2 separate regions of the Homo sapiens genome follow, and region 2 is linked to region 1. Evidence: fine-mapped expression QTL. A gene starts in region 1. The other region holds a variant in brackets. All regions are shown on one strand. Distances are between the middles of the regions. Region 1 holds the start of DAPL1 (death associated protein like 1). Region 2 overlaps LOC124907901 (a long non-coding RNA gene).

Region 1 (16,357 bases):
ATGTCTCTAATCCCTGCACTTTGGGAAGCCGAGGCTGGAGGACTGCCCGAGGCCAGAAGTTCAAGACCAACCTCGGCAACGTAGCAAGACCTCATCTCTACAAATAAATAAATAAATAAATAAATAAATAAATAAATAAATAAATTTAAAAATTAGCTGGGTGTGCTGGCTTTCACCTGTAGCACTAGCTACAGGGGAGGCTGAGGCGGGAGTATTCCTTGAACCCAGGAGTTCAAGATTACTGTGAGCTATGATCACCCCACTGCTCTAGCCTAAGTGACAGAGTGAGAACCACCTCTAAAAAGATGTTCAACCTCACTCATACTCAGAGAAGTGTAGACAAAAACAAAATTGAATACTATTTTTCACCTATCAACTTGACAAAGAGCAAGTTGGTAAGACTTGGCAAATTGGTAACACTTGGGGGAAAAAGGCACTCATTTATTTCTGGCAGGAATTGCCCTCCAACATCAATAGAGAGCAATTTGGCAGTATCAGTATTACAAATACACATGTCTTTTGACACAGCAATCTATTTTTAGGAATTTAGCTTATAAATAAAATGGCATACACAGGCAAAGTTGTATTTGTAAAAGATTATTCACTGCAACATTATTTATGGGAGTAAATGATTAGAAACAACTTAAATCTTCATCAGAAAGACACTGATGAAATAAATTCTGATCCATCCATAACATGGAAGGGTACAGTCACTAAGTAATTGCAGAGCTTTTATTTCTAATGAAGGAAGTGTCTTCAAGATATTCTATAAGTGAAAAAAGTTAGGTACACAATAATATATGTATATATTACCATATGTGTTATAAAAATTAAAAAACATGCCGGGCGCGGTGGCTCACGCCTGTAATCCCAGCACTTTGGGAGGCTAAGGCAGGCGGATCACAAGGTCAGGATCGAGACCATCCTGGCTAACATGGTGAAACCTCGTCCCGTCTCTACTAAAAATACAAAAAAAAATTAGCCGGGCGTGGTGGCGGGCGCCTGTAGTCCCAGCTGCTCAGGATGCTGAGGTAGGAGAATGGCGTGAACCCGGGAGGCGGAGCTTTGAGCGGAGATCGCGCCACTGCACTCCAGCCTGGGCAACAGAGTGAGACTCTGTCTCAAAAAAAAAAAAAATTAAAAAACATATGTATGAATTTCTCCTAAATGTATGAAATATCTTAGGAAAACTTATAACTTTGGTTGTCCCCAAAGAGTGGACCTGGAGGTTGGAGAGGGAAAAAATCAATTTTCACTATATTCCTTTTTGTATCTTTTGAGTTTTGAATCATATGAATGTATTACTGAAACAGGGTATTTCCCTGACCCCTTCAAGGGACTCATGACAGGGGCGCCTGGTTTACTCAGCCTGCCACTCAACTCCTCACAGGAGGGAGCACGTGAGCAAACAAGATGTAAACTGGAGTGCATAAGCACTGGAACCACCCTACCACTTCAGCACTGGCAGGAGCAAACTCCGTGTAGGCCCCACGGCAGCATCCAGGTGGGTGCCTGCGACCCCTGAAGCCCCAAAGGGCATGTTACATTGCTCTTTTAGCACTGCCATCCGCAGACTGCTTAAGTGTCAACAGTTCAGCGGGCCCTTTCCCTTTTTGCGTGAGGTGGCTGCCCTTTGCCAGAGCAGGAAAAGAGCCAGTGTGACAGCCTTTTGTGTCCACACTCATGGTTCCCAAGCTCTTGTCCAGCATCCAGGAAAAATGAGGTCACACTAACAAATTGAAGGATGGTAAACGTGGGGGATTTTATTGCCGAAGAAAGTGGTTCTCAGTGGGAAGGGGAGCTGAAAAGGGGATAGGATGGGGTAGGTAATCTTCCCCTGAAGTCCTGCTATCTCCAGCCAGATTATTCTCTGAAGTTACGCCTTTGAGCTGTCCCTCTGAAGTCGACAACATCCAGCCGTAGTCCCCAATGTCCAGCTGCTTCTCCTCTCTGCTGGCTGAATCTGGGGTCTTTATAGGCAGAGGATGGGGTGGGGCAGGGCCCTGGGTGGTTTAGGAAAAGGTAACATTCCAGCGGGAAACCAGGGATATACGTTCTCACTTTGGGCCACCGTTTCAGGCTTTTCAGCTTGAGGATGAGGTTTTCCCTAGGGACATGCCCTTTTCTGCCTGAAATTTCTCTGCCTCCTGTCTCCATCATTACCCATTCAATAAATAAAAACGTAAAAATCTTTGGAGAGATTAAATGAGATGAATAATTTGTAGGAGACTTAACACAGGGCTTTGCCAATAGAGAGATAAATAATAAGTTTATGATTAAATGGATGAATTTGAGGGTTTTCCCAACAGTAGGATGGGACTTACAGAGTGAAGTGGAGTCATCATATCATGACTACAAGGGCCCAGATTCATGAAAAGGGATCTCCAGGCTCCGAAATTCACCGCTGAACCCTGAGTGGCACCAAGAGATGGTGCCCACAGGCAAGAATGTCTTGGTCTTTTAAGCCCAAGGACCAAGGGAATGTTTTCTCCATAATCACTCCCATGATCCCACCACACACACCCCACCTATAATACATATAATGGAGAAACAGCAGAGAAAATACTGAATGAAATCTAAAGAGAAAGCAAACACTTAAACAAATGGATATAGACTAAAGGAAAAAACTAGAGTAAAAATGTCTATAAAGACTGCATTTTATATAAATTTCCAGCTCTAGTTTTTCCTTTAACAGGAAAGGCAGGGAGGGTCCTTGGCAGAGAGAAGAGGGAAGCAGTTAGTGAAGTAAACACTGGTCCAAAAAAGTCACATCTTGGCCCACAAAAGGCTGGCCCTCTTTCCAGGTATGTCTTTCCCATGGCCTAGTCTGGCTATGGTTGGAATTCATTTCAGAATCTTTGATACCTGAAACATCTCAACCCATGGAAAGGGTACAAAACCCTGTAACAGATAACTTACTAGCATCCGCTGCTCAGACAGTATGCTGTCCTTTAGCTGTTTTATTAGTGGTGCATTATACAGCTTCCTGGCATGACTTTTCAGATGCCCAATGCGGGTTTCAAGCTGCTGGACAATAATAAAGACTGGGCCGACAATGGATCAGTAGCAGCTTCTGATCTTTCCACTGCCATCTTGTTATGTTTTACGACTAATTTACCTCTCTTTGTTTCCTTTTATGGCCTTTTCCCACCTGTAAAATGGGGTCAGTAAATTTTGGCTTTATAGAAGATGTGGAAGGTAGGGAATTGCAGAAATTTGTGTTTTAACTAATCTCGAGTGTATTTCTAAAAGTAAAGTGAACTATTATTATCTTCCAATTAAGTTTATTTGCCTCTTGGCTCCAACACTCACCACTAAAACTTCAAGACCCCAAGGCAAGAAAAAATGTACTCTTCATTGTTTACCTTGTTATCAAGATTGGCTAACTTCTAAACTGTGTTTCTATATTCCTGCACACAGAATTGTGATTGTTTTGTTGCTGGGGGAATCCCTATACATAAAAGTGTCTATCTGCATGATAACTCGGAAGAAAGATCCTTACACACCTCTCCAAATTATTAATGGATTCTTTGTTTCAGGTCCAGCAAATGGAGAGAGAAAACAATGAGTGCTTTCTGCTAAAGAATACTAGGAATTAAAAATGTCCTCGGATGAAAGGAAAATCCCAGTGTTTTGGAGAGAGGGAAGAGAAAGACACACTATATCTAAAAAACAGACCAAAAAAGCTGGTAAGCACAGTTTTCTCCATAATGTAACTCCCATAATACCGCACCCCCCAACACACCCCACCTAGAAAACATATAATGGAGAAACAACAGAGAAAATACTGAATGAAATCTAAAGAGAAAGCAAAGCACCTAAACACATGGATATAGACTACAGGGAGAAACTGGAGTTAAAATGTCTAGACAGGCACTGGAAGCTCAGAGACATCTTACAAAACAGGAGGCAAGATGCTTTGGAGAGGGCTTTCTCTAAACCACCTGCTATGGTTTGAATGTCTCCTCCAAAACTCATGTTGAAACTGAATCGTCAATATGCCAGTATGGAGAGGTGAAGACTTTAAGAGGTGACCATAGGGCTCTGCTCTTCTGAACAGATTGATCCATTCATGGATTGATAGGTTAATGGGGCCAGGTGCAGCCTGTAATCTTAACACTTTGGGAGGATGAAGAGGGATGATCACTTGAACTCAGGAATTTAAGACCAGCCTGGCCAACATAGAGAGACCTCATCTCTACTAAAAATTTTTTAAAGATTATCTGGGCATGGTGGCACACATATGTAGCCTGCGCTACTTGAGAGACCAAGGCTTGAGCCCAGGAGTTCGAAACCAACCTGACCAACACGGTGAAACCCGTCTTTACAAAAATGATAAAAATTAGCCAGGTGTGGTGGTGCACACCTGTAATCCCAGCTACTCGAGAGGCTGAGGCAGGAAGATCACTTGAGCCCAGGAGTTTGAGGCTACAGTGAGCCATAATACAGCCACTGCACTCCAGCCTGGGGAATAGAGCGAGACCCTGTCTCAAAAAAAGGGTTAATGGTTATCCTGGGAGGGGAGCTGGTGGCTTTATAAGAAGTGGAGGAGAGGCTGGGCATGGTGGCTCACACCTGTAATCCCAGCACTTTGGGAGGGCCAAGGTGGGCAGATCATCTGAGGTCAGGAGTTTGAGGAGTTCGAGACCAGCCTGGCCAATATGGTGAAACCCCATCTCTACTAAAAATACAAAAGTTAGCCAGGCATGGTGGCACATGCCTGTCATCTCAGCTACTTGGGAGGCTGAGCCAGGAGAAACTGCTTGAACCTAGGAGGCAGAGGTTGCAGTGAGCCAAGATCATGCCAATGCACTGCAGTCTGGGTGATAGAGTGAGACTCTAAAAAGAAGTGGAGGAGAAACCCCGAGTGAGCAGGTTAGCTCTGTGCCGCCTTGGGACTCAGCAGAGAGTGGGACCCCACCAGCAATAAGGCTCTCAGCAGATGCATGCCCTCCACCTTCGACTTCTTAGCCTCCATAACTGAATACTGTTTTTTGTTTGTTTGTTCTTGTTTTGATACAGGGTCTCACTCTATCCCTCAGGCAGTGGCGAGATCTTGGCTCTCTGCAACCTCTGCCTAGTGATCCTCCTGCCCCAGCCTCCTGAGTACCTGGGGCTACAGGCATGCGCCACCACACCTGGCTAAATTTTTGCATGTTTTGTAGAGATAGGGTTTTGTCACATTGCACAGGCTGGTCTCAAACTCCTAGACTCAAGCAATCCTCCAGCCTTGACCTCCCAATGTACTGGGATTACAGGCATGAGCCACCATGCCCAGCTGCTTATTTTTATAAATTACCAAGTTTCAGGTATTCTGTTGTAAGCAATAGAAAACAAATTAAGACACCACCCCACCACCTAAGAGTCACCACCCTCCCAGTTAGCTTTCTTGCCCCTGATTTCTAACATAGATTTCTCATACTTTCAGAACTTAGCATAAGGTACAGCATGTAACTAATGTTAAGAGAAAAAAGAAAATATAAAAATTAGATGCACCCTGCAAATATACAGGTGCATGAGGAAGGTAATGTCTCCCACATACAAATTAAAAGAAGAAAGTGCAATACTACGATGAAAGTGTTGTATGATTTTAAAATATGATTAATGTTAAAGCATCCTTTCATTTTAAGACAGAAAGCTCTCTGGCAACCTCAACGTCGTGAGAATCCATTTTACTAGGCTTTTTGCATTACAAAGCACAATTTCAAATACTTTGGTCCTAGCATGAACTGCTCTCCTGTTGCAGTTAACTCGACTGATGCCATTTTTAAAGTGAGCTTTATAAGCCCATTTAAAGAGTAATAACATGTTGTCTTCTTTCCATGAGACTTTCACCCTGATGGAAGCTCCAGTATGTCCCCAGAGTAAATCACTTGGGCTCCACTTACCTCACAGTGTACAAAACAGGCCTGGGCTTTTCATGACGAACATAAAGAGAAGGCAAGGGAAGACCCCACCCCACTTTGGGGCTGCCCTGTGCTCCTAAGCACACACAGAGGGAGACAGAGTTGGGACCCTGGGCCTCCTCCAGTGGAAGCAGAAAGAGTGGCAGGGCAGGAAGGCTGTGCTGGGCGGGGCCCAGAGGAGGCCACATTGGCCTCATTTTTGCTTTTGCCACTTACCTTTTACCATCACCCTGTGGATACCACTACTCCCGTTCCCTTAGATCAGAATTTTCCAACTTGGATTTCAAGAGCACAAATTCTTTCCTCCCTTCTTTCTTTCCTTCTTTCTTTCTTTCTTTTTCTTTCTTTCTTTCTTTCTTTCTTTCTTTCTTTCTTTCTTTCTTTCTTTCTTTCTCTCTTTCTTTCTTTCTCTCTTTCTTTCTTTCTCTCTTTCTTTCTTTCTTTCTTTCTTTCTCTCTCTCTCTCTCTCTCTCTCTTCCTTCCTTCCTTCCTTTCTCTCTTTCTTTCTTATTTATTTATTTTGAGATAGGCCTTGCTATGTTGCCGTTGAATTCCTGGGCTCAAGCAATACTCCCAACTCAGCTTCCCCAAGTAGCTGGGACTCCAGGTGCACAACACCCCACCAAGCCAAGAACACAAATTCTAGGGGGTTTTTGTTGGTTGGTTTCTGTTTTTGAGACAGGCTCTCAGTCTATCGCCCAGGCTGGAATGCAGAGGCATGATCTTGGCTCACTGCAGCCTTGACCTCCTGGGCTCAAGCAATCCTCCCACCCCAGCCTCCCAAGTAGCTGGGACCAGAAGCGTGTGCCACCACTCCTGGCTAATTTTTGTATTATATTTTTTTTAGAGATGGGGTTTCTCCATGTTGCCCAGGAGGCTGGTCTCTTAACTTCTGGGCTCAAGCAATAGGCTGGCCTCAGCTGCCCAAAGTGCTGGGATTACAGGCGTGCACCACCAATCCTGGCCCTCTAAGGGTTTTTTTTAGGGCCATGAGAACGAACGTTTTCATGATGAAAAATGCTCTGCGGATGCTGCCTACTAAATCCCCCTGGGGAGGGTCACAATGTACATCTGTGAACTGAAGGCTTTACATGCGAATGATGTGAAAAGAAATCCTGTTTAACATTACTTCATGGATAAATCGAGTATTTGCCCCAAAGAAGCCTTCTCTGCTTGGGCATGCATTATATTCTGGTCCAACCACTCATTCCTCCACATCACTTAGGCTGTCCTAGGTGCAGGCTCTCCTAAGGGGTGGTTGCCCTTTGATTTCCTCCTTGCCTTTTGCACTTTCGCAGCTTATAGATATAGAAGATAACCAATAAAATCTGGTACCAAACAGTCACACATCTAGGCTTTATGCTACCTACCTATGCTGTCCAATACCAGAGTCACATGCCACATGTAGCTATTCCTATTTCTATTAATTAAAACTATTTAATTTTAAATAAATTAAAAATTCAATTTTTCAGTTGCACCAGCCACATTTCAAGTGCTCAAATGAATGTGTGGCTTGTGGCTACAACACTGGTCAGAGCAGATACAAACATTTCCATCTTCTCAGAAATTTCTGAGGAATAATGCCACAATAAACCTTGTCAATCATAGAAGGAATTCTGTTAACCTTCTCATCATGTCCATATCCGCATGAGAATGTGAGATCGCTGAAAGCAAGAATGAGATTTTCTCATCTCTGAACCCCAGCTCCTAGTCCAGGGCCCTGCAGGAAAGGCCACTCACAAAATAACTGCTAGATGATATGAATGTTTCCTCTTTGCTCCCAAAAATGTGCCAACCTTTGTCGCAACACTTTACCATACTTTTCCCTCAAAAAAAACTTTTATTAGTTTTTATTTATTTAAAAAGTAATACAGAATACTGAAAGAAGATTTAAAAATCCACATGTAATACTCCCACCTACAGAATGCCACTCTTAACATTTTGGAGTATTTACATTCATTTATTTACAAACAGATTTTTTGTCATTTGTTGAGGCATATTTTGCATATGGTAAAATTCACCCTTTTAAGGTGATGTGTGTATGACGTATGATGAATGTAACAACCACTACAATCAAGATACAAATTATTTCCATCACCCTCAAAAAGTCACCTCCTCACCTTTGTAATTAAGCCACTCTCCCCAACCGCTCTCCAGCAATCACTGATCCAATTTCTGTTCCTAGGGTTTCAACTGTTCAAGAATGTCATGTACATGGAATTATATAGGAAGTAGCTTTTTTTAGTCTGGGTTCTTCCATTTAACGTGTTGCTTTTGAGATTCATCCATGTTTCCCTTTTTATTGCTGAGTTATATTCTATGATATAGATACACCACAATCTGTTTACCCATTCTACAGTTGAACTTCGGAGTTGTTTCTAACTTTTGGCAATCCTGATAGAGCTGTTATAAACATTTGCACATAGGGTTTTGTGTGTACATATGTTTTCATCACTCTTGGGAGAATTCCTAGCAATTGGATTGTTAGTCATATATAGTAAGTGTATGTTGAATTTTATAAGAAACTGTCAAACTGACTTCCAGAACACCTTTGCTTTTTTGCGTTTCCCCCAGCAATGTATGAGAGTTTCAGTTGCTCTGCGTCTTCACCAGCATTTTGTATTTTCCTTTTTTTTCTTGTCTTGAGCCATCCTAATACATATGTAGTGGTATTTTATTGTGGCTTTAATTTGCATTTCCCTAATGACTAATGATGTCGAGCATCTTTTTGTGTGATTATGTGTTGTCAATATCCTTACTTTGTAATGTTTTATTTGAATCTTTTGCCCATTTTTAATTGGGTTGTCTGCTTTCTTATTATTGAGTTGTAAGAATTCTTTATACATTCTAAATGTCGGTACTTCATCAGAAATGCATTTTACAGATATTTTCTCCCAGTTTGTAGCTTGTTTTTATTTTCTTAACAGGGTTTTTCGAAGAGCAGACAACTGCTCTTCAAGTTGTTTTTTAACTGTACTGAAGAACAAAGAAATTTTTATAAATATCTGCCACATGCTAAACTTTTATTGGCGCTGGAATTACAATAATGGCTAAGCTTAAAGTTGTATTTTTCCTTTTTAGCAAAATTGGCATTGATTGGTTTCTTGTCTACTTTTTCACTATCTTATCGTTAATATTTCTACATCATTAAATATTATTTGAAAACATGATTGTAAGGTATACTCTCACAGTGATTTCTTGATTCATCTTAACTATCCCTCTGTATTTGGAGATGTTTATCTTGATTCCCATCAATATTTTAAAAAGAAAAGAAGCATATGATTCCCATCCTTGCGCAGAAATCTCTGTATACATTTCCAATTATTTTCTTAGTATAAATGCTTATAATTGCAAAAACTGGGACAGAGGCACAGGACTTTGCTCTATACCTGTCTCTTTAGAAAGACTACAGATGTCCTGAAGCAAAGAGCTTGTCTTGGCCCCCTTGTCATGCCAGAATATGACAAAAGCCTGTTACATTGCAGGTGCACTATACACACTTGAGGGATCAACGGTTGGAGAGAAAAAGAATTCCACTGAACTCCATCCTCTCCCTTTCCTCCTGTGGAAAAAAAAGAAAGAAAAGAATATCCTGTCTCCTGCAGACATCTACCTTGCCTTCCCAGATGAAGGGAAGAAGAAAGTCTTCTTCTAAGAGAAAACTTGCCAAGGAGATGCAGGTTTCCCAGAGAGCTGGATGACAAGCCCTGTTGCTGCTCAGCAATGCCCTTAAGGGGCCCTGCCCCCTGCCTTTATAAAGCCGGTGCGGTGGTGGGGCAGCCACAGCTGGCATTCAGCCTCCAGAGCACCAGCACTGGCACTGGCACTGGCACACGCTATGGCAAATGAAGTGCAAGACCTGCTCTCCCCTCGGAAAGGGGGACATCCTCCTGCAGGTAGGCTGCCACCTGCCCTCAGTCCTGCAGGCTGTTGCTGCTCCCCTCTTCCACCAATGCCTTCCATGGAGCACCCCGACAGACGGAAGCTTCTCTGTCTACCCAGTATGACTTTAACTCCATGCAGCCTGACTTCCTCTTATGTCTTTGATCCTTCTTAGCTTGTATGTAAATCCACCCGGGGATTTGTCAGACCCCCAGTGAGTTAAAACCTAATTACCTACGGCAGTGTATGGATTTGGGGCTTGTGGAAAGGCATAGGTAGAGAGGTTGCACCTTTCCTCCCTCGAGGCAGCATTCCTTTCACGGGGCCCTGGCTGTAGATTAGCAGTGACACATCTACACCAGGAAGATGATTTGCTACCATGGAAACCTTTCTCTTTAGAGGTTCCAGCTGTAAGACTCAGTCTCCCCAAGATGCCTGTGCATCATGTGACTTCCTACCCAGGCAAAGCAGCTTCTGCACAGAGGACAACAATCACATTTCTTTCTCCCTCCTCAGGCTTTGGGGATGTATTTACCTGTCAACAAGCTGAGAAGTACTTTTAAATAAAGACACAGGACTTGAGGAGGCTGACTGGAAAAAGTAGCTGTCAAGGTGTTTGCAAAGCATCCATAGTTGTCTTTTTTTTTAATTTATGCTATCTATATTGACTCTCTGGAATATGGAAATTAGTTTTATTGTACTTAACCATATGTTCATATAGATTGGCTGAGGTGTACAGGCCTATTTTTAGTCAGTTTTATATTCTTCCAACTGCCTTCCTTCTTTTTTACTGAAGAAAGAACTCAAAAGCTTGACTGCTTTGTTCTTGCCTTTCTCCATTTACAAAAACATATTTACTGTCTAATTCTCTGGCACCTCTAGGCCAAGGTTATTTCAATAATCTTTGCTGCAGAGGGTGATGGCGGGTATTGTCTTCACAGAGAGTCAAAATGTAACATTGTTTTGGTGGCTTTCCGGCGGGTAGCCTGGCCAAAAAGAGTCCAGATTTTACTACTCATTCTGAGTTTCCAGCTCTAGACATCTTGGTCTGATCTCCTCTGGTAGATTACTGATGTTTTATATTTGTAATCAAATTTAGCAATATTTAACATTACCTATATTTAAAGTTAATTATGCTAGCTAATAGTCAGGAAGTATATATGCAAATCATTGGAAGACAGGCTCCTTACATAGACAAAGACAAAAGAAAAAAGAACTCCATTCTCATTATGTTGTTTCCACTCCAACCCTTCATAAAATGGCTAAGATGAAACCTGTTTTGCTAAACTACATTTATGCACAAAGAACACAGACATAAACTTAACCAAATGAAAGTTCGAATGAAACCACCGGGAACTTTCTGTCCCCACCACTAATGATTGCTAATTACTCTGTGTACATAGCACACCATGACTCCATCAAGCATGTCACAATGCCTCTGGCATGACAATTAATTATTATGAACTGTGACACTACAGATAAGAGGTTTTGGATAATTAGAATGGAGATGAAGGCAGACTTTTGCCTCCCCACTGAGCACAAGGGAACAAAGAAGTGTCATCCTTCAGCCTGTCTTGCCACTAATTTTAAGTCTGAATCTGTTTGTGGTGGTGCAAAATTTTATTTATGGAACAAAAACAAGTGCCAAAATTCTGTTAATTTTTCACTTGATTTTTATAAGCAAAATACAGATCCCTAAAAGTGGGAAGAAGATACGATTCGGTGGGGAGGGTGGGACATACATAGCCTTTGGAATCAGACAGACCTGGGTTTGAACCTCAACTTCATTTCACATCTTCGAGCCTGAGTTTCCTCATCTCTGAAACAGGATGCAATAAATAACATCTATCTAGTAAGTTTGTTGTAATGATTAAAAGAGATCACCTCTGTAAAGTATCTGGCACCTGAATGTTAGCCCCCTTAAAATGCAGGCCCGGTAGAACACATCACTATCAAAAGAAATTATCCTCCCCAATTTCAAGACATCCTGATGCTGGAGCGGCATTAGACACTACTGCAGTAGTTGGAACAGAAAGAAACTGCAATGGAAAAAATATGTGCCTATCCCATCACAGTTAAAAATGAAATCACTCAGCTGGGTACAGTAGCTCACGCCTGTAATCCCAGCACTTTGGGAGGCCGAGGTGGGTGGATCACCTGAGGTCAGGAGTTCAAGACCAGCCTGGCCAACATGGTGAAACTCCATCTCTATTAAAAATACAAAAATTAGCCGGGCGTGGGGCATGTGCCTGTAATCCCAGCTACTTGGGAGGCTGAGGCAGAAGAATCGCTTGAACCCAGGAGGCAGAGATTGCGGTGAGCAGAGATCACGCCACTGCACTCCAGCCTGGGCAACAAGAGTGAGACCCCGTCTGAAAAAAAAAAAAATCACTTAGAAGTCAGCCTGCTGCATCTCTTTCCTACCTATCTATGGAGCAGTCAATGGTTTCACTTTAATGTATATTAATATAATATATTGCATCTCTGATAGCCCTAGTTATACATTTATGCTGTGAAATGAGACTACATAAAACACAAGGTGGCCTGGGCTCCAGTAAGAAGAACTTGGAATTTTCTGCTTTTTTGATTTGTCTCACCCTCACTTTCAGAAGAACCCCATTATATGAACAGCAGCACCAAAAATGTGTGAGTAGAAGTTGACCCCAGGAAGCCAGATATATGATGAATAGAAAGAAGAGCAGTGGTTCATGACTTTTTCTATATTTCCTGCACTTTTTAATTGGGTCTAAGCCAAATGAATCAGAGCCATTAGAGGTGTTGCCACTGAATCCCTAAAGAGAATATGTTTTCTGACTCATTAAAGAGAGAAGGAAGTTGGAGGGGGAGTATGACCAATTGTAAAACTAATGCAGAAAATGGGGGACAACCATAAACTGCATATGGACCACGGTCATTTGAAAACCCTCACACACTCCAAAGGCTTGAATCTCTCAATTCCATCTGCTCAAGTCAACTTGGGGGCATTGGAACAGGACAGAACCATGAAGTTAGAAGAGAGAGGCTGTGAGATTCACCTCCTCCTGCCCCAGGGGACAGGGATTTGAGGACTGCAAGAACAGCTGCCATTCGCTCAATGCTGACTGCACCTGGCACAGCAAAGAGACTTCTAGACGTGGCAACAGCCCTGCAGATGGGTGATGTTTCACGGAAGAGTGAACGGAGACTCAGTGAGATTGAGGGACTTGCCGAAAGCCACACAGCTAGTGGGAAGTGGAGCTGGAATTGGAAAATGAAGCTGACCTCATGTCAAAGCCCTCTTACTCTAAAGCCTTTTCTGTTTGCTCCACAACCTTCTCTTGATGAGGGTTTTGGGGGTCTTGATTGGCAGCCTAAAATTTCCTGATAAATTAACTGTGAATGCAAAGTGAGCATTTTGCAAACATCTAAACTTTTCATTAAACCTTCAAATAGATGTTCTCATTCACAAGGCAGAGTTTGCACAAACCTTTGTGCCTTTCAGCTTTTTCACATACATTGTCCATGGATTTGTGAAGGAAAAAGCCTAATTTTTTTGCAGGCTTATGTTTATCTTCACTACTCTCTACCAAAAACTGTGAAAAAGATTGGAAAATCTTAGCTGGAAAATTATTATTTAGAATTCTAAACTAACTGATGTATTTTTAAAAATTTATAAACTACAAAAGCAGTCACAAGAGTATAATTCTCATGCAGAGATGGGAAAGCAAAGCTTCATTTTCCCCGCTTAAATTTAGGTTTTCTAGTGAAATTATCTAAAAGAGCATCTCCCTTTTTTACATTGTCTATCTCTAGTTCATCTTCATTATTGAAAGGACTGAAAGTCTTAATTTACATATTTGTACTCAACATCCTGTTAAAATGTTAAATCAGTTCATATTTTACTTTGCCCAATTCCAATTGATCTTTCTGCAAAGGTTCAAAAAGCAGGATAGTCCCAAACATGGAGTTACGTAAAGGATTACAAACTTAAATGGATCGATTTGGATACAGTGAAACTTTGAAAAGGTCTCTTGAGTCAGAGGTATCTAGTATAAGCAAAATGAGCAAGAACCTGATTGTGTTGCATTGTAAATAATGGCTTGTCTAGACCCCAGGAGATCATTGTGATCAGTGTTCCCAGCAGAGATTTTAAGATAACCCTCCCACAAACTGACCCCACCTGGTTCAGTCACCCCAGTGTAGTGACAGCCCAAATCTATATCAGTGCATCCATCTGTAGTCTAGGGATATTATCTTCCGCTTCTTTCTACTGTACATAGATGACTGAGTAAGATCAGCTACCAGAACAAGTTTGGTACAAGAACTCTGTTCTGGAAATCCAATGTGTGTTTCCCTTATGCTTCCGAAATTGCTGAGTTAGAGCCTACAGCCCTATGACAGAGACGATTTAAAGACTGCTGGATGGAAGTAGGAATCTTTATGGGGAGGACTTTTTCTTCTTCCCCCTAAAATGTCTATCTTATTGTTCCTAAGGATGAGGAATTCCCATGTTTATGGTTTAGCTGGGTGTGGTGGCGGGCACCTGTAGTCCCAGCTACTCGGGAGGCTGAGGCAGGAGAATCACTTGAACTCGGGAGGCAGAGGTTGCAGTGAGCCGAGATCGCTCCATGGCACTCCAGCCTGGCGACAGAGCGAGACTCCATCTCAAAAAAAAAAAAAAAAAAATTTGGCATTTATTTCTTTGTTAAATGCCTTATGCTCTTTCCAAAGAGAAAGAAGTGATGGATTTTTTTGAGAGGTAGATGAAAAGAGTTGAAATTATAATAAGGACTTTATAATAAACATAATCTAGTTCAACTTCCACTGAATTCCCCAAAGTTCTCCTAAGGTATTCATGACAAAAGAACTTCTTTCCTTTACTTTAATACACTGAGGTACAAAAAACTCGTTATTGTATTAGGCAATCTATATCATGTTGAATAAGACAAGCTGTTACAAGTAGCCAGACTGTACCTTTCTAGAACTCTTAGTCTTTGGTCTTCGTTCTCACCTCTGGAACCACATAAAATAAATATAAATAATAATTAGTAATTAGTAAGTGCCTACCATGCACCAGGTTCTTATGTCACCTCTATTTTCTGACAGCAATAGTCAGTATTATTCCCCATTGAAGGACGTGGAGACAGTCTGAGAGCAGTTTTAAGTGTCCTACTCACAGTCACAGAGCTTAGGAGGAATAGAGTTGTCCAACCCTACATAACATTTCCTCACCAGTAAACTGCTCCTCTGCCCTCATGACAGCCCTTCAGATCTTTGAAGATGGCTCCCTAAGTTCTCTCGCTTTGCTTCTTCAGGAGTTATCTTACTAGATTCCCTAGTTCCTCATGTAGCATGCCTGCCTTCACTCTGGTCACTCTCCTCTGAAGATTCCCAGATTATCAATGTCCTTCCAAATGAGTGGTACAGAACTCAGCATTCCAAAGATCTTCTTTTCTTTTTTTTAGACAGAATCTCACTCTGTCACCCAGGCTGGAGAGCAGTGGTGCAATCTCAGCTCCCTGCAACCTCTGCCTCCCAGGTTCAAGCAATTCTCCTGTCTCAGCCTCCCAAATAGTGGCTGGGACTACCGGCAATCGCCACCACACCCAGCTAATTTTTGTATTTTTAGTAGAGATGGGATTTCGCCCTGTTGGTCAGGCTGGTCTTGAACTCCTGACCTCAGGTGATCCACCTGCCTCGGCCTCCCAAAGTGCTGGGATTACAGGTGTGAGCCATCGCGCCCAGCCAGTTCTTCTCATCTTTAACTAAAACAATTTTGCTTCTATAGTTGGTAATAATAATTAATCCAGGTAGAAGAAAATGTGTAGGAATAATAGCATCAGGGAAAGCAAAAGGAACACTAACAAGAAAATAATTACAGCACACTATATATGAAAGGCACTTGTCATAAGGAGAATGAAAAATACTGTTGGGAGGTGTATCAAAGGCCCCAGAGCTCTTATCTGATTCTTCTTAGCATTAAGCAACAGTGCTATGAGCAGTCACCATCTCCCATACAGAGGCACACACGCCTCAAACATTCTTTGGGAAAAAGCCCATCCCTTGATTTATTTCACCTGTATTCCATGGCTATTCAGAAATGTTTCCCTATAATTTCATTTTTGTTGCAGATTACTTTGTATGCCATATGCGTGTGTATAAATAATTTATGTATATAAAGAATGTGCATATATATATATAATTTAAAGCAGATAATGTATAAAGATAGCATTTTCTGAGGCTTATATACAAAAATCAATATTTTTTAAACTTGGTAATTCAAATGACCAAATGGAGTTTATTCCATGAATGCAGGAATGGTTGAATAGTAAAACAACAGATCTTAGTGATACAAAACCCATAAGAGATTGACAAGGTCATATAAAAACAGCAAATTTCTGACTGGCAAAAACATTATCAATAAAGTCAAAAAGCAGTAACTGGTACAATATAATATTTTATATTTGCAATGTATCTCATGGAAAAATAGCTCCTATAAATCGGTAAGAAAAAGATAGGAAAAAGACTAGCAATCCAATTGAAAAGGACAAAAGATTTGAACAGCTTACAGAAAAGGAAATGCAAATGGC
Region 2 (16,357 bases), 58 kb after region 1:
GAGTAGCTGGGATTACAGGTGCACATCCCCATGCCCAGCTAATTTTTGTATTTTTAGTAGAGATGGGGTTTCACCATGTTGGCCAGGCTGGTCTCAAGCTCCTGACCTCAGGTGATCTGCCCGCCTCAGCCTCCCAAAGTGCAGGGATGACAGGCGTGAGCTGCCGCCCTGGCCTCATGCCCCCATTTCCAACAAGCATCACTCCAACTCCTGCTTCTGTTATCATGTGTCCTTCTTCTGACTTTGATCCCCTTGTCCCTCTTCAAAGGACACCCGTGAATAAAGCAGGCCTACTGGACAATCTGTATAATCTTGCCATGTCAACATCTTAATTTAATCATGTTAGCAAAGTCTCTTTTGCCATGGAAGGTAACATAGTCACAGATTTCAGGGCTAAGAACGTAGACATTGTTCAGGCTACCACACCAAGACCAGCCAGGTTTTCTCAAACCTGGGGCTGATCCTGGTCTTCAGTCACCAGAGCAAGTTTAACCTGGGCTAGGGCTTTTAGGGGTTCAGGCTACCGCAGCACACCATAGCACCTTCTGCTAGGTCCTTCACCCACTTCATGGCCTGCTTCTGGCTCTAATGCATCCAAGCAGCTGGAATGTAATTAAGCAGCTGTGGGAAAGAGCTCTCAAGTCACTGCAAAATACTTGTAGCCTCAGCGTAATAGATATGGTGAATAAGCATAAAGGGCAACATAATGAAAATGTATTTCTATTTTTGTCTCCCACTGTCTTTTTTTTTATTATTATTATTTTTCTCAGATATTTACTCTGAGAACCTGGTTGACCTCCAGCAGGTAAAATTCACAAAAGTAACTGGGTCCCTCTGGAGTTTTCTTCTCAGACTTGTTCACACTGAGCCTCCAGCAGGTCATCAATTACAGTTCTGGTTTCCCTGCCTGGCATAGGTTCCACTGTCTTTTTAAAACTTGTTCAGGGAAGGGGTGATCCTGCCCCTGCCTCCATGAGTGTAGGCCTCAACTGGGAGCACTGTTAATATTTCAAGCAGGAGAGTTCTTGGGTTACTGGGATATCGAGCATCTCAGGCCCTTGTCCTCTAAATGCCAAGAGTATCCTCCCTGCCAATCATTGTGTCAATCAAAACACACTCCAACATATTTCTGAATGATCTCTAGGGAGGTGGTACTGCCAGAAAACCTGGGCAGCCCCATGACTTCGTTCATTCTCAGGTCCTCAGGGAGTAATTGTTTCATGGTCCCAGCAGGTCTTTACTCAGCCATTAGAATACCTGATCCAGTGTGAAACCCAAAACTCCCAGGGGTTTAGGGCTGCTGTTGGGGAATATCCGCAGGAGGGAAGGGAACTTTCAAAGTTAGCCCACTCCCTCATCCCTGCTTACTCACCTGAGTGGGCAAAACTGGGGAAACGGAATCAGAGAAGTTTCTGAGTTTCTTATTGATGGCTTGATCACAAACCACTTTTTCTTTTGTGGAAAGTTTTGTGGGTTTTTAGAGTCCCATCACTGAGAATGCATCCACCCTCAAGGCCATGCCTGCTTGACCCCTGGTTCCGTGGTACCCCACCCCATCCCACACACAGGCCTCACCCCCCTCTAGGGTAGGGAGTTCAGAAGTCAGGACACTACTTCTTCATTCTGCGTATGGCAGCCCAGAGGCTCACTTTGGAATATCACATCTATTGCAGCTTGTTACCTAGTGGAAACTTCCATTTTAACATTCTATTGTAGTCAAGAATTAAGATAATTATTTCAAAACAAATCATTTACAGCTGATTCTTCCATGACTGAGGACCTCTGGGTGTCTGAGTTTCCACAGCATTGTCAAGTACATACAACTCACTTTTATAAGCTAATAACTTTCCAAACTGAATTTTGAAGACAATACTTGAAATGCCCTTTTGTCTGGAAGAATGTGTAAGACATTTTTTTTCTCCAGTTTTGACTCTGTTCTCATTGTGATGAATTCTGAAAGCTTTCTTAACCTTGCTGCTTTATTTTCCAGTCCCCTCAAAATGGAGGTTTGGGGACCCACAGGTAACTTCTCATTCATGTTGTTTTCTGACTTTAAAAAAGCATTTTAAAATGTTTGGAACATAGAAGAGTGAATGACTCAAATCTGATGAAAATATAATGACCTGTTTTGCTTCTACATGTAGCATTTCACTGCTTACAACACATCTACACATAGATTTTCTTTTTTGATTTTCTTTTTAGATTTTCTTTTTTGAGGTAAAGAGCAGGCAAGTCCTATTTTATAGATGAAGTGTTCACAGTGGACAAATAAGTAGGTATTATTATCATCCCCAAGAAACTAAGGCTCAGAAAAGTTAAGCAATTTACCCAAAGTCACACAGCCAGTAAGTGTGCCCTCAAGATACATGCCCTTCTTGCTGTGCCATACATCTAGCCTTCTCTCTTGAACTAGAACCTGATCAGTTGCTCATAAAACACTTTAATATTCACCCTATATGGGAAAGGAAAGGTTTGGGTCTGTCTGTTTTATTGAATGTTAATGCCAGCAGAAAGCCAGATGGCCAAAAGGAGTAGTCTTTTATGGTTCTCAATTTTGGCATTGAAGGGCAAGTGAAAAGGAACATGAATTTGAGGAAATAGCAGTGCAAGTCTTCCCACGAGGCATCACAGGTCTTTGTGAAATGAGTACTTTGGGACCAATCAAGCCAAGATAAACACTGAATCATTTCAAGTGAGACAAACACAATCCCCGTGTCTCTATTTTGCTAATTAGGAGCCCAGAGCACAAAGCTCACAGGACTGGTGGTGTCAGATTAAATTCTGGAGCATTCCCATAAACATTTCCAGAGACCTCCCCTGCCCTTTGTCAACTGCACATTAAACAGCTTTCTCAGCCCAAGGGGCCTCTTCCTTTGCAGACCTCCTGCTGGGTGAGACCTTCTACCGAGGATTTCTCTCTTTACCTTTAGTTTTTGGAAAGCCCTTAGCTCCATTTGTTACAGTTATGTTCTGCCTGAGTACTCAGACTTCCCCTAGTCCTTTGTACCTGAAGTTTTATAGCTCTTCTTCACTCTTCTACCCTGTCTAGCACTTCATAAAGCTGTGTTCTTTGTTGCCTTTATGTACATTCAAATACTACTACTATCCAGGCTTTATAAATCACTGAGTTGTGGAAACCAACTGTGTAATGCACATTCAGATGATGATGTTTTACTGGTCACAGGAGATTCTTAAGGGCAAAGTATTTAGCATTAGCACCCAAAGTGGCAAAGACTGGTTAATACTACTCAGAGGACCCTATCTAAGAGATTGAGGTGGTGATTATAATGGGGAAGAAGTAAAAAAAAGACAAGGTAAGCTTCAAATATCCACAATTCCCCACAAGGAAACCTCTCTTCTCTGAGCTCTATAACATCACTTCAAAGCAATTTTACAGCATAAATTATTCTGGTCAGTATGATAATAATAACGTCATGCCCTTCAGAGCAATTGATGATGGAGTTTTTCCCTGGGATCATGGAAAAACTCATCCCCAGTGGCTATTCACCATCAAAGTGGGTAATATACAGACTTGAGGTTTACAGAAGCAGGTCTGCATTATCCAGGGATGGAGTTCACGCCAACCTGAGTAGCGGCTCTTTCAGGTTGTCAGCGAAAAAAGCTTAAATATCCTGTTTTCAAATTCCAACAGTACCTAACCCGTCCACGTTGTTGGGGTTGCTGCCAGCTGAGGACAGCTGGTTCACCTGATTGGACCTGAAAGGTGCTTTCTTTCCTATCAGCTTAGCCCATGAGAGGCAGAAGCTGCTTGTCTTTCAGTGGGATGATCCGGAGTCAGGTGTCACTAGTCAGTACACTTGGACCGGGCTTCCCCAAGGGTTCAAGAACTCCCCCACCATCTTCGGGGAGGCGTTGGCTCGAGACCTCCAGAAGTTTCTCACCAGAGACCTAGGCTGCATGTTGCTCCACGAGGTTGATGACCTTCTGCTGGGACACCCCACTACAGTGGGGTGCGCCAAGGGAACAGATGCCCTACACCAGCCCATGGAGGACTGTGGGTATAAGGTGTCCAAGAAGAAAGCTCAGATCTGCTGACAGCAGGTACGTTACTTGGGATTTACTATCCGACGGGTCGGAACACAGCCTGGGATCAGAAAGAAAGCAGGTCATTTGCAATCTATCGGAGCCTAAGAGCAGAAGGCAGGTGAGAGAATTCTTAGGAGCTGTGGGGTTTTGTTGACTGTGGATCCCAAACTTTGCAGTAATAGCCAAGAATTTGTATGAGGTCACAAATGGGGTGGGGACTGGGAAACTTTGGAATGGGGATCCCAACAACAGCAAGATTTTCATGAGTTAAAGGAAAAACTTCTGGCAGCTCCAGCCCTGGGGCTACCTGATCTGCCAAAGCCTTTTCCATTGTATGCATCAGAGAGAGAAAAGATGGCAGCTGGACTTTGAACCCAAACTGTGGGGCCCTGGCTGAGGCCGGTGGCCTACCTCTCTAAACAACTAGACGGGGTTTCTAAAGGATGGCCCCCCTGTTTGAGGGCCTTGGCAGCAACTGCCCTGCTAGGACAAGAAGCAAATAAGCTGACTCTTGGGCAAAACCTGAACATAAAGGCCTCCCATGCTGTGGTGACTTTAATGAATACTAAAGGACATCGTTGGCTAATGAATGCCAGGCTCACCAAGTACCAAACTTTGCTCTGTGAAAATCCCCGTATAACCATTGAAGTTTGTAACACCCTACACCCTGCCACCTTCTCCCGGTATCAGAGAGCCCTGTCGAGCCTGATTGTGTAGAAGTGTTGGACTCAGTTGACTCTAGCAGACCTGACTTCCAGGACCAGCCTTGGGCATCAGTAGACTTGGAACTATACGTGGATGGGAGCAGCTTCTTCAACCCCCAAGGAGAGAGAGGTGCAGGGTGTGCCGTGGTAACCCTGGACACTGTTGTTGAAGCCAGATCGTTGCCCCAGGGCACTTCAGCCCAGAAAGCTGAACTCATTGCTTTCATTCGGGCCTTAGAACTCAGTGAGGGTGAGACTGTCAACATTTACACTGATTCTTGGTATGTCTTTTTAACCCTTCAAGTGCATGGAGCGTGATAGAAAGAAAAGGGCCTATTGAACTCTGGGGGAAAAGACAGAAAATATCAACAAGAAATCTTGCAATTATTAGAAGCAGTATGGAAACCCCACAAGGTGGCAGTTGTGCATTGCAGAGGACACCAGCGAGCTTCCACCTTGCTGCGTTTGGGGAATTCGCGCGCTGCCTCAGAGGCTCGAAAAGCAGCATCTGCCCCCTTCCGGGCATCAGTGCTCCCTCAAGCACTTGATCTTGGACCTACTTCTTCTAAAGAAGAAAAGGACTTTCTCCAGGTAGAGGGAAGGACAAGTGATGCAGGAAGGATGGATTCGGTTACCAGATGGGAGAGTAGCTGTGCCACACTTGCTAGGAGGTGCAGTTGTACTGGCTGTGCATGAAACCACCCATGTAGATCAGGAGTCACTGGAAAAGTTGTTAGGCTGGTATTTGTACATCTCGCATTTGTCAGCCCTTGCCAAAACGGTGAGGTAGTGGTGTGTTACCTGCCGACAGCATAATGCGAGGCAAGGTCCAGCCGTTCCACCCGGCATACAAGCTTACGGAGCAGCCCCCTTTGAAAATCTCCAGGTAGACTTCACAGAGATGCCAAAGTGTGGAGGTAACAAGTATTTACTAGTTCTTGGGCGTACCTACTCTGGTTGGGTGGAGGCTTATCTAACACGAACTGAGAAAGCTCATGAAGTAACCCCTGTGCTTCTTTGAGATCTGATTCCTAGATTTCGACTGGCCTTACGGATCGGCTCAGATAACGGGCCTGCGTTTTTGGCTGCCTTGGTACAGAAGACGGCAAAGGTATTGGGGATCACACGGAAACTGCATGCCGCCTCCCGGCCTCAGAGTTCCAGAAAGGTGGAGCAGATGAATCGGACTATCAAAAATAGTACTATTGTCTTCCCCGCTGGATATTTAAAACAACACCACAAGCAAGGGGCGTCAAACCATCTGCTAAATTTGAGGGAATGTTATCCTCTCCCCACTCCCCTGGCCCCAGATATTAGAGACAATAACACAGGGGTAATGTATACCCACTGCTTTATTGAGAGTAATATCATCCTCTCCCTTCTTGGATATTAGGAACAACATTACATTGTGCGTGAACGCCTGTCCCGAAAATCAATGGAATGTCATCCTGTGCCTCCATGGATATGACGAACAATATCACAGGGGATGTACAACTTCTAAGATATTGGCAGTGATATCATCCTCTCCCCTCTGGAAGTTAGGGACAATATCACAGGGGTAGTGTACAGCCTCTGGGATGTTGGAACTAATATCATCCTCCCGCCCACTGGATATTAAAAACCATATCACAAGGGGCGTGTACACACACTTTGATACTGGTATTAATACCATCGTCTCCCTCTTTGGATAATCCGTGCCATATTTCAGGTGGGGTATACACCACCTGCAATATTGGAAGTAATATGATTTTCTCCACCCCCCGGATATCAGAAACAATATCACAGGGGGGTGTCAACAACCCCTGCGATATTTGCAGTAATATCATAGTCTCCTCTTATGAATATTAAGAACAATATCGTAGGGGTGGGGGGTGTACACCCCCTTTCATATTTGATATCATCCTCTTCCCCCCTGGATATTAGGAACAATATCAGGAAGGGATGTACAGATCCTGCGAACTTTGCTGTCATATAATTGTCTCTCCCCTAGGTATTAGGACAAATGTCACTGGGGATGTGAACAGCCCTGCGATATTGGGAATAGTATCATCCTCTCCACCCTTGCATATTGGGAACAACATCACAGGTGGGGTGTACTGCCTCTGCGATATTGGGAGTAAAATTTTCCTCTCTTCCCCTGGACATTAGGAAGGGTATCAGAGGGGGAGGGTGTACATTCCCTGCGATATTCAATGTAACATTATCCTCTCCCTCCCAGGGTAATCAGAACAATAGGACAGGAGGGATGTACACCCCCTGCGATATTGAGAGTCATATCATCCTCTTTTGCTCTAGATATTAAAAACAATGTCACAGGGTTATGTACACCCCCTGCGACATTGGGAGTAATATCATCCTCTCTCCTTGTAGATATTAGGAAGAGTATCACAGGGCTGTGTAAACCCCCTGCGGTATTGGGAGTAATATCATCTTCTCTCCCTCTGGATATTAGGAAGATTTTCACAAGGGTGTGTACTCCCCCTGCGATATTGGCAGTAATATCATCCTCTCCACCCAGGAAATGACTAAAAGGTCACGGGGGTTGTACTCCCCCTGT[G/A]ATATTGGGAGTAATGTCGTCCTCCCCAAACCTGGATGTTAGCAACAGGATCACAGAGGGGGTGTACACAGCCTGCGACATTGGAAATAATAATGATCCTCTCCCCACCTGGATATGGGGAAAGATATCACAGCGCGGGTATACATTTCTGACACTGTTGGAAGTAATATCATTCTTTTCATTTCTGGATATTAGGAAGAATATCACAGGGGTGCTGTACAATTACTTCGATATTGGGAGTAATATCATCCTCTATTTTCCTGGATATTGGGCCCAAAAACACAAAAAGGTGTACAAACCCTGCGATATTGGGAGTAACAGCACACTCTCCTTCCCCGGATGTTAGAAAACAATATCATCAGGGCTGAACACCCCCTGCGAAAATGGGAGTCATATTGACTCTTTCACAGGCCATTTGGAACAATATCACAGGGGGTGTTTACAAACAGGGGTGGTGTACACCCCCTGGGATATTGGGAGTAACATCATTCTCTCCACCTCCGGATATTAAGAACAATATCCCGGCAGGAGGTGATACACCCCCAGTGATATTGGGAATAATGTCATCCTCTCCTTCCTGTATTCGGAACAATATCACAAGGGGGTGTACACCTTCCATGATATTGGAAGCAATATCATCCTCTCCCTCGCTGGATATTAGAAAAAAATATCACTCACGGTGTACAACCACTGTGATATTAGGAAGAATATTACAGAGTGTACACCCACTCCGACTTTAGGAGAAATAGCTCCCTCAAATGTCACAAATAATTCCACAGGGTATACACTGATATCTCCCTAGGATATTACAAATACTATCACAGGGTGTACACCCACTGTGATAACAGGAGTGATATCTCCCTAGGATATTACGAGTAACATCACAGAATGTACACCTATGGTGTGCACCCACGGTGACATTAGGTGTAATATCAAACCAGGACATAACCAATAAGACCACAGGGAGTACATACATGATGTACACCGACAGTGATGTTACGAGAACTGTCTCCCTAGGATAATACGAATAACATCGCAGAGTGGACACACATGGTATACACCCACTGTGGCACTGGGACTAATAACTTTCTAAGATATTACAAATAGCATCACAGAATAGAAACACATGGTGTACACCCACTGTAACACAAGGTGTAATTTCTCCCTAGGATATTACGAGTGACATCTCAGTGCGTACACACATGGTAAACACCCACTGTGACATTAAGGGTAATATCCCCCTAGGATATTACCAATAACATCACAGGGTGTCCACCCATGGTGTACACGCTCTGTGATGTTAGGGATAATAACTCCCTAGGATATGATGAATAATACCACAGGGTGTACAGAAACTGTGATATTAGAGGTAATATCGCTCTAGGATATTATGAATAATATCACAGGGTGTACATCCACTGTGATACTGGGAGCAATATCTCTCTAGGATAGTACAAATAATATCACAGAGTGGACACCCACTGTGATGTTAGGAGAAATATCTCTCTGGGATATTACAAATCATATCACAGAGTGTACACACGTGGTGTACATCCACTTTGCTATTAGGAGTAATATCTTCCTAGGACATTACAAATAACATCGCAGAGTGTACACCCACTGTAATATTAGGAATCGTATTTCCCTAGGTGATTACAAATACTATCACAGGGTGTACACCCACTGTGATATTAGGAGTAATATCCTCCTAGGGTATTACAAATAATTTCACAGTCTGTACACACATGGTGTACACTCACTGTGATATTAGGAGTAATATCTACCTAGTGGATAACAAATAACATCGCAGGGTGTACACCCACTTTGATATTAGCTGTAATATTTTTCTAAGTTGTTACAAATAAGATCACAGGGTGTGCAAACATGGTGTACACTCGCTGTGATATCAGGAGTCGTATCTCCGTAATATATTATGAATCATATCACAGGTCGTACACCCACTGTATTATTAGGAGTGATATCTCTGTAGGATATTACAATTAATATCACAGGGTGTAGAGCCACCGTGATATTAGGAGCAATATCTTTCTAGGATATTACAAACAATATCACAGGGTGTACGCTCACTCTGCTGTCAGGAGCAATATCTCCCTAGGATATCAAAAATCCTATCACAGGGTGTACAATCTCTGCCTTCCAGGTTCTAAGGGATTCTCCTGCTTCAGCCTCCCGAGTAGCTAGGGTTACCCGCCAGCACGCCCGGCTAATTTTTTTTTATTTTCACTGGAGACGGGGTTTCACCACGTTGGCCAGGCTGGTCTGGAACTCCTGACCTCAGGTGATCCATCAGCCTCGGCCGCCCAAAGTGCTGGGATTACAGGTGTGAGCCATGGCGCTCGGCCAAGAGTTATATATTAAATTCATTTGGAAACACAGCTCCCATATTTGAGTGTGCATGTACTTCTATGAAGAAATGATGTCAGAAAACCTAAGGATGATAATAAATATGAAAAGTAACAGGCATGTGAAAAGGTGTTCCGATTGAGAACTCTAAGGTTCGATTTCGTTTTTAGATAATGGGGTCCTAGCTCTTGTGTCGTCCTTTTACATATTCTACGTCAAAGGAATTTGTAGCACGGTGTCAGAATAAAACAGAGTGTATTTCACGGCTTCTTAATTTCTTTCAATTAGACTGAGATCTTTTTCTTAAAGAGAGAAGGACATTTTCACTGCATTGTATTTTTTCTGAAAAGAGTAGGCCGTATTTTACTGAGATCACGGATTTGGTCTTCTAATATTCTTCAGTGGATTTTCTCTAAAGTAGTATGTACAGAAAGACTTGTATAGCAAAAAAGTAAACCACGTAATAATTCTGAGATTTTTGGATTTGTCACAACTGAGAAACATTGCTGGCGGTGTATGGTCCGCAAGTGTGAAAATGTTCCTTGTGAGTTGCTCGCATCCAGCATTAAGGGCTGGTTTTTATCTTTTATTTTTCCAATCCTCTTTCCTTCTCAAGGTGTCCAAGACACACGGAGCCACGGAATCTCACAGGTGTCTGAGAATTCCTCCTCCTGGGACTCTCAGAGGATCCAGAACTGCTGCCGGTCCTCGCTTTGCTGTCCCTGTCCCTGTCCATGTATCTGGTCATGGTGCTGAGGAACCTGCTCAGCATCCTGGCTGTCAGCTCTGACTCCCCTCCACACCCCCGTGTACTTCTTCCTCTCCAACCTGTGCTGGGCTGACATCGGTTTCACCTCGCCCACGGTTCCCAAGATGATTGTGGACATGCAGTCGCATAGCAGAGTCATCTCTCATGCGGGCTGCCTGGCACAGATGTCTTTCTTGGTCCTTTTTGCATGTATAGAAGACATGCTCCTGACTGTGATGGCCTATGACAGCTTTGTAGCCATCTGTCACCCTCTGCACTACCCAGTCATCATGAATCCTCACCTCTGTGTCTTCTTCGTTTTGGTGTCCTTTTTCCTTAGCCTGTTGGATTCCCAGCTGCACGGTTGGATTGTGTTACAATTCACCATCATCAAGAATGTGGAAATCTCTAATTTTCTCTGTGACCCCTCTCAACTTCTCAAACTTGCCTGTTCTGACAGCGTCACCAATAGCATATTCATATATTTTGATAGTACTATGTTTGGTTTTCTTCCCATTTCAGGGATCCTTTTGTCTTAGTATAAAATTGTCCCCTCCATTCTAAGGATGTCATCGTCAGATGGGAAGTATAAAGCCTTCACCACCTGTGGCTCTCACCTAGCAGTTGTTTGCTGATTTGATGGAACAGGCATTGGCATGTACCTGACTTCAGCTCTGTCACCACCCCCCAGGAATGGTGTGGCGGCGTCAGTGATGTACGCTGTGGTCACCCCCATGCTGAACCTTTTCATCTACAGCCTGAGAAACAGGGACATACAAAGTGCCCTGCGGAGGCTGCGCAGCAGAACAGTGGAATCTCATGATCTGTTCCATCCTTTTTCTTGTGTGGGTGAGAAAGGGCAACCACATTAAATCTCTGCATCTGCAAATCCCGCCCCTTAGTCACATTCTTTTTGTGGCTTGATGGCTTTTATTCCTTTCTGCATTTCCTTTGTGAATATTGCTTTCTTCGTTATGCCTTTAACTGGAATGGGTCAGTATTCTGGGATCCTCTGTTTAGCAGGAACCTCATGACAGAATCCTCTATACCTAGGCGGCCTCTTTTAGTTTCTGAGCAATAACCCTGTCATCCAGGTGGAATCACAACCATCTTTTTATATACACGAAGTCCTCTCTTCATTTTGGAATTCCCTGAAGACTGACTTTATGGAAACAATGTACAGGAGGTCCTCCAACACCACTGGTTGTTCAAAGTTGTGTAGTTATACTGTTGATGAAAAATAAGTGGTTTCACTATACATCATTTTGCTTCAAGGTGAAGTTTCCAAGAGACTTTCAAAGATGTTAAGTGAGGACATACTGTAAATCAAATTCATATCCTCTTCCAGAGTTCATGTGGAATTTCTTTATAAACTGCTTCTAGAGAATCGATTTAGGCAGGTTACGTGTAGAGATCCAGGTCGCCATTCCTCAATCTTGGCTTTGAGTCAAATCACCTGGGGAGCTTACAAATGGTGAGGCCTGGGTCTCAATACCTGAGATTCTGATTTCCTTGCACCTATGTGAGTATGTGGATTTTTTTTTTCTTTTAAACCACCGGAGGTGGTTCCAAAGACGAAGTTTTCAGAGGCATCAAGCTCCAATGAGTAAGAACAGAAATTAATTGTGATATGATTTCCTCATATATTACCTTCAAATGCGTTGTCCATCAACAGCATACAAATGTTTATTATGCTGTTTTTTCTTACCATTTCGCATTTTCTATTTCTTTCTTTTCCTTTCTTTTCTTTTTTTTTTTTTTTTCAAGTCAGAGTTTCACTCTTGTTGCCAGGGCTGGGGTTCAATGGCAAGGTCTCGGCTCACTGTATCCTCTGCCTCCCGTATTAAAGCAAGTCTCCTGTCTCAGCCTTCCAAGTAGCTGGGATTACAGGCGTGCGCTACCATGCCCGGCTAATTTCTTTTTTTTTGTATTGTTAGTAGAGACAGTGTTTCTCCGTTTTGGTCAGGCTGGCCTTGAACTTCCGACCTCAGGTGATCCGCCCGCTTCCGCCTCCCAAATTGCTGGGATTACATGTGTGAGCGACCGCGCCCAGCCACCACTTAGCATTTACATTTTACATTTGTTGAAGTTATAGATTTATACACACATTGATTGCTGCTTTGTTATACACTTGCATATACCTAAGATGGGAAATAGAAAAGAATAAAATGGGCACAGTATCCCTGAAGTTTCACATTCCGAGACATTTTAAAAATATTTGCTCTTTAGAAATTTGTTTCAGTTAAGGAACTGTGGTATACACACCCAATGAAGTATTATTCAGCCTAAAAAGGAAGAAAATCCTCTCTGCTGCAGACAAAATGGATGAGACTGCGTGTCTGTATATTAAATGAAAGAAGCCAGGCACAGAATGACAAATATTTCATGTCCTCACTTCTATGTAGAAAGAAAAAAGGAAACCTTGGCCAGGTGTGGTGGCTCAGGCCTGTAATCCCAGCACTTTGGGAGGCCGAGTCGCACGGATCACTTGAGTCCAGGAGTTCGAGACCTGCCTGGCCAACATGGTGAAACCCCGTCTCTACGGAAAACACAAACAATTAGCCGGGCGTGGTGACGCGTGCCTGTAGTCTCAGCTACTGGGAGGGCCGAGGCCCAAGAAGCGCTTGAACTCGGGAGGCGGAGGTTGCAGTGGGCCCGGATTGTGCCTGTGTACTCCAACCTGAGCAACAGAAAGAGATGCCATCACACACCTACACACAAAAGGAATCTCAGGAAGGTGGAAAGTCTAAAGGTGGTTAGCAGACGCTAGGAAGAAAAGGGGTGGGATGGGGAATGAAGAGAAGGGGATAATTGGGTCCCAAAATACAGAAAGATGGAATAAGTGAGTTCTAGTGTTTGACAGCACAGTATGAAAATTTTAGTTCACAAGAATTTCTTGCATATTTCCAGATGCTTTGGTAAGAAGCTTCCTAACTTTCTCCTTATGCTGGTTTTTCAGCTATTCTCTTTCTGCTCTTGAAATCATGCTGGTTTTTTTGTTTTTGGTTTTTTGTTTTGAGACGGAGTTTTGCGCTTGTTTCGCAGGCTGGAGTGTAATGGTGCAATCTTGGCTCACCGCAACCTCTGCCTCCTGGGTTCAAGCGATTGTCCTGCCTCCACCTCCCAAACAGCTGGGATTACAGGCATGCCCCAGCACGCCCAGCTAATGTTGTATTTGTAGTAGAGATGGAAGTTTCTTCCTGTGGGTCAGGCTGGTCTTGAACCCCTGACCTCAGGTGATCCGAACGTCTCGGCCTCCCAAAGGGCTGGGATGACAGGCGTGAGCAACCGCGCCCGGGCCATGCTGTATCCTTGTCTGTTGTCTGTTGTTGTTTGTTTGTTTTCGAGCCCAGAAATAACTTCTTCCCTATATGTTCAAATGATTTTTCACAGGAGTGCTAAGAAAGTTCATTGGTGGAAAAGCAGCCTTTTCAAGAAATGGTGTTGGAGAAACTTGATTTCCACATGCAGAAGAAGGAAGGTGGACCCTATGTCACACCAGGTGCAAAAATGAACACAAACTGGATCAAAGACCTCACCCCCAGTGCTGAAAGTATAATATGCCTCAAAGAAAACATTGGCCACACTTTCACGACATCAGATTGGGCAATGCTTTCTGGGATATGACACCAAAAGCATAGGCAACAAAAGAAAATTGGATTCCTTGGATGACATCTAAACGACAGACACTTTCGTGCATCAGCAAACACTGTGAACTCAGTGAAAAGATAACCCATGGATTAGGAAAAAGATTTGCAAATCATATCTCTGAAAAGAGGCTGATATCCATCATATATAAAGAAGAGCTAGAACTAAACAACAAGAAACCCAAAGCACCCCATTAACAATGGTCAGAAGACTCGAGTAGACGTGTCCCTAAAGAAGATAGAGCAATGGCCAATAAGCGTCTAAAATGATGTTCAAAATCACTAATCATGGGGAAGTGCAAATCAAACCAAGAATGTGATACCACATATTAGGATGGATATGATAAACGAACAAGCCTTGGTGAAACTAGAGGGAAGTAGGAATGCTCGAATCTGATTGGAGGGAATGTAAAACCGTGAAGGAATGGGGAAAATAGTATGGCCTGTCCTGGAAAAAGTAGAAACAGAATGATCAGATGTTCCCGCAGTTGCACTTGTGGGTACCCACCAAAAAGAATTAGAAGCCAGGAGTGGAAGAGAGATTTGTACACCCATATTCATAGCAGCGTTACTCAAAACAGCCAAAATGGGGAAGCAACCCAAGGGTTCGTGGGCAGATGAATGAAAAAGCACAGTGCAGTTCATTCATACAACGGAAGACTATTCAGCCATAAAAATGCAGGCACTTCTGGCCGGTGCCGTGGCTCACGCCTGTAATCTCAGCATCTTGGAAGACCGAGGTGGGCGGATCACCCGAGGTCAGGAATTCGAGACCAGCCTGGCCATCTTGGTGAAACCCTGTCTCTACTGAATATGCACAAAATTAGACGAGCGTGGTGGCGCGTGCCTATACTCCCAGCTACTCGGGAGGCTGAGCACAAGAATCGCTGGAACCCGGGAGGCGGAGGTTGCAGTGAGCCCAGATTGTGCCACTGCACTCCAGCCTGTGTGACAGAGTGAGACTCCATGTAAACACAAAACAAAACAGAACCAAAAAAATAAATAAATAAATAATAAAAAACCGAAAAAGCCAGGCAGGCACTTCTGACACAGGCTGCAACATGGATGAACCTTGAAGACATTATCGCCAGTGAAACAAATAAATCCCAAAAGGATAAACACGACCAGCCTCCGTGGCTCGCACCTGTAAACCCAGCACTTTGAGAGGCCGAGGCAGGCGTATCACTTCAGGTCAGCAGTTCGAGACCAGCCTGGCCAATATGGTGAAACCTCGTTTCTATTAAAACTACAAAAATTAGCTGGGCGTGGTGGCGCACGCCTGTAACCCCAGCTACACGGGAGACTGAGACACAAGAATCGCTTGGACCCACGATGTGGAGGTTGCAGTCAGCCGAGACCATGCCGCTGCACTCCAGCCTGGGTGACAGAGAAAGACTGTCTCCAAAACAAAGAAACAAAGAAAATTAAACACGGTATGATTCCCCTTCTATCAAGTGTCTAGAGTAGTTAAACTCATAGAGTTGCAAAATAGAACGGTGGCCCCCAGGGGTGGGCGAGAGAGAGGAATGGAGAGTTTGCTTAATGGGTGCAATTTCCATTTGGAAAGCTAAAACCGTTCTGGAGATGATGGCGGTGATGGTTGCAAAACAATGTGAATGTACCTAATGTGATTAAACTCTAAACTGAAAACTAGTGGAAATTGTAAATGTTCATACTGGCCATTCTATATGCAAGAATCTCTATTTATAATTTTTAGGATTTATACGTGGTATATTTTCCCATACTAAAAGATGAAAATTAAAGCACTTGGATCTTGAAAAAGAAAAGAAAGAAGCGAAGAATCCACACAAGCTCTCTCCTGATTAGAGGAAGAGCCCCAAAACTTCTGTGGACACTGACTTTTCCCTTCTTCTTCTTGCATGATTATGAGGAAATCCTTAGAGGTTGGGGAACTTGGGCGACTCTGGCTAATGAGGAGCTCTATGCCTTGAGACCCCCAGGCCATAGAATAGTAAATACTCAGTCTGTGCCTCCAGCCCTGCAGTGTGAGGTTGCAGTCCTGTGGGCTCCACACCCGTCACCTGTATCAGGAGGCTCATGTCTCGGCCTGTCTTCTTGCCAGCCTTGAGGACGGAGGCTGAGCCTCCCATGTGCACCACGCAGGGAGGACAGTGGACCTGTTCTCCGTGGTCATGGCCCAGCAGAGGGGAAGGGCAGTTCAGTGAGTGCTGAGGGACGGTTGGGAGCCTTGTTTGTTTCCTCATCCTCAGGACAAATGGGAGAGTGCCGTGGGCAGATGGGAGGAGACCAATGTGCAAACTGTCAGCTC

The links.
Region 2: its variant is fine-mapped to the expression of DAPL1 in esophagus mucosa (GTEx, PIP above 0.99).

The regions. Positions count from the first base shown.
Region 1 is chr2:158,785,629-158,801,985 of GRCh38, forward strand. DAPL1 (death associated protein like 1) reads left to right here and starts at 9,689. Exons shown (of 4, transcript NM_001017920.3): 1 at 9,689-9,802. The coding sequence starts at 9,745. RefSeq lists an enhancer at 7,115-7,284.
Region 2 is chr2:158,843,306-158,859,662 of GRCh38, forward strand. All of the region lies in intron 2 of LOC124907901 (a long non-coding RNA gene), which reads left to right. It also overlaps the pseudogene OR7E89P. Among named protein-coding and RNA genes, the nearest start is that of DAPL1, 56 kb to the left of the region's middle. The variant G/A (reference allele first, on the strand shown) is at 7,309.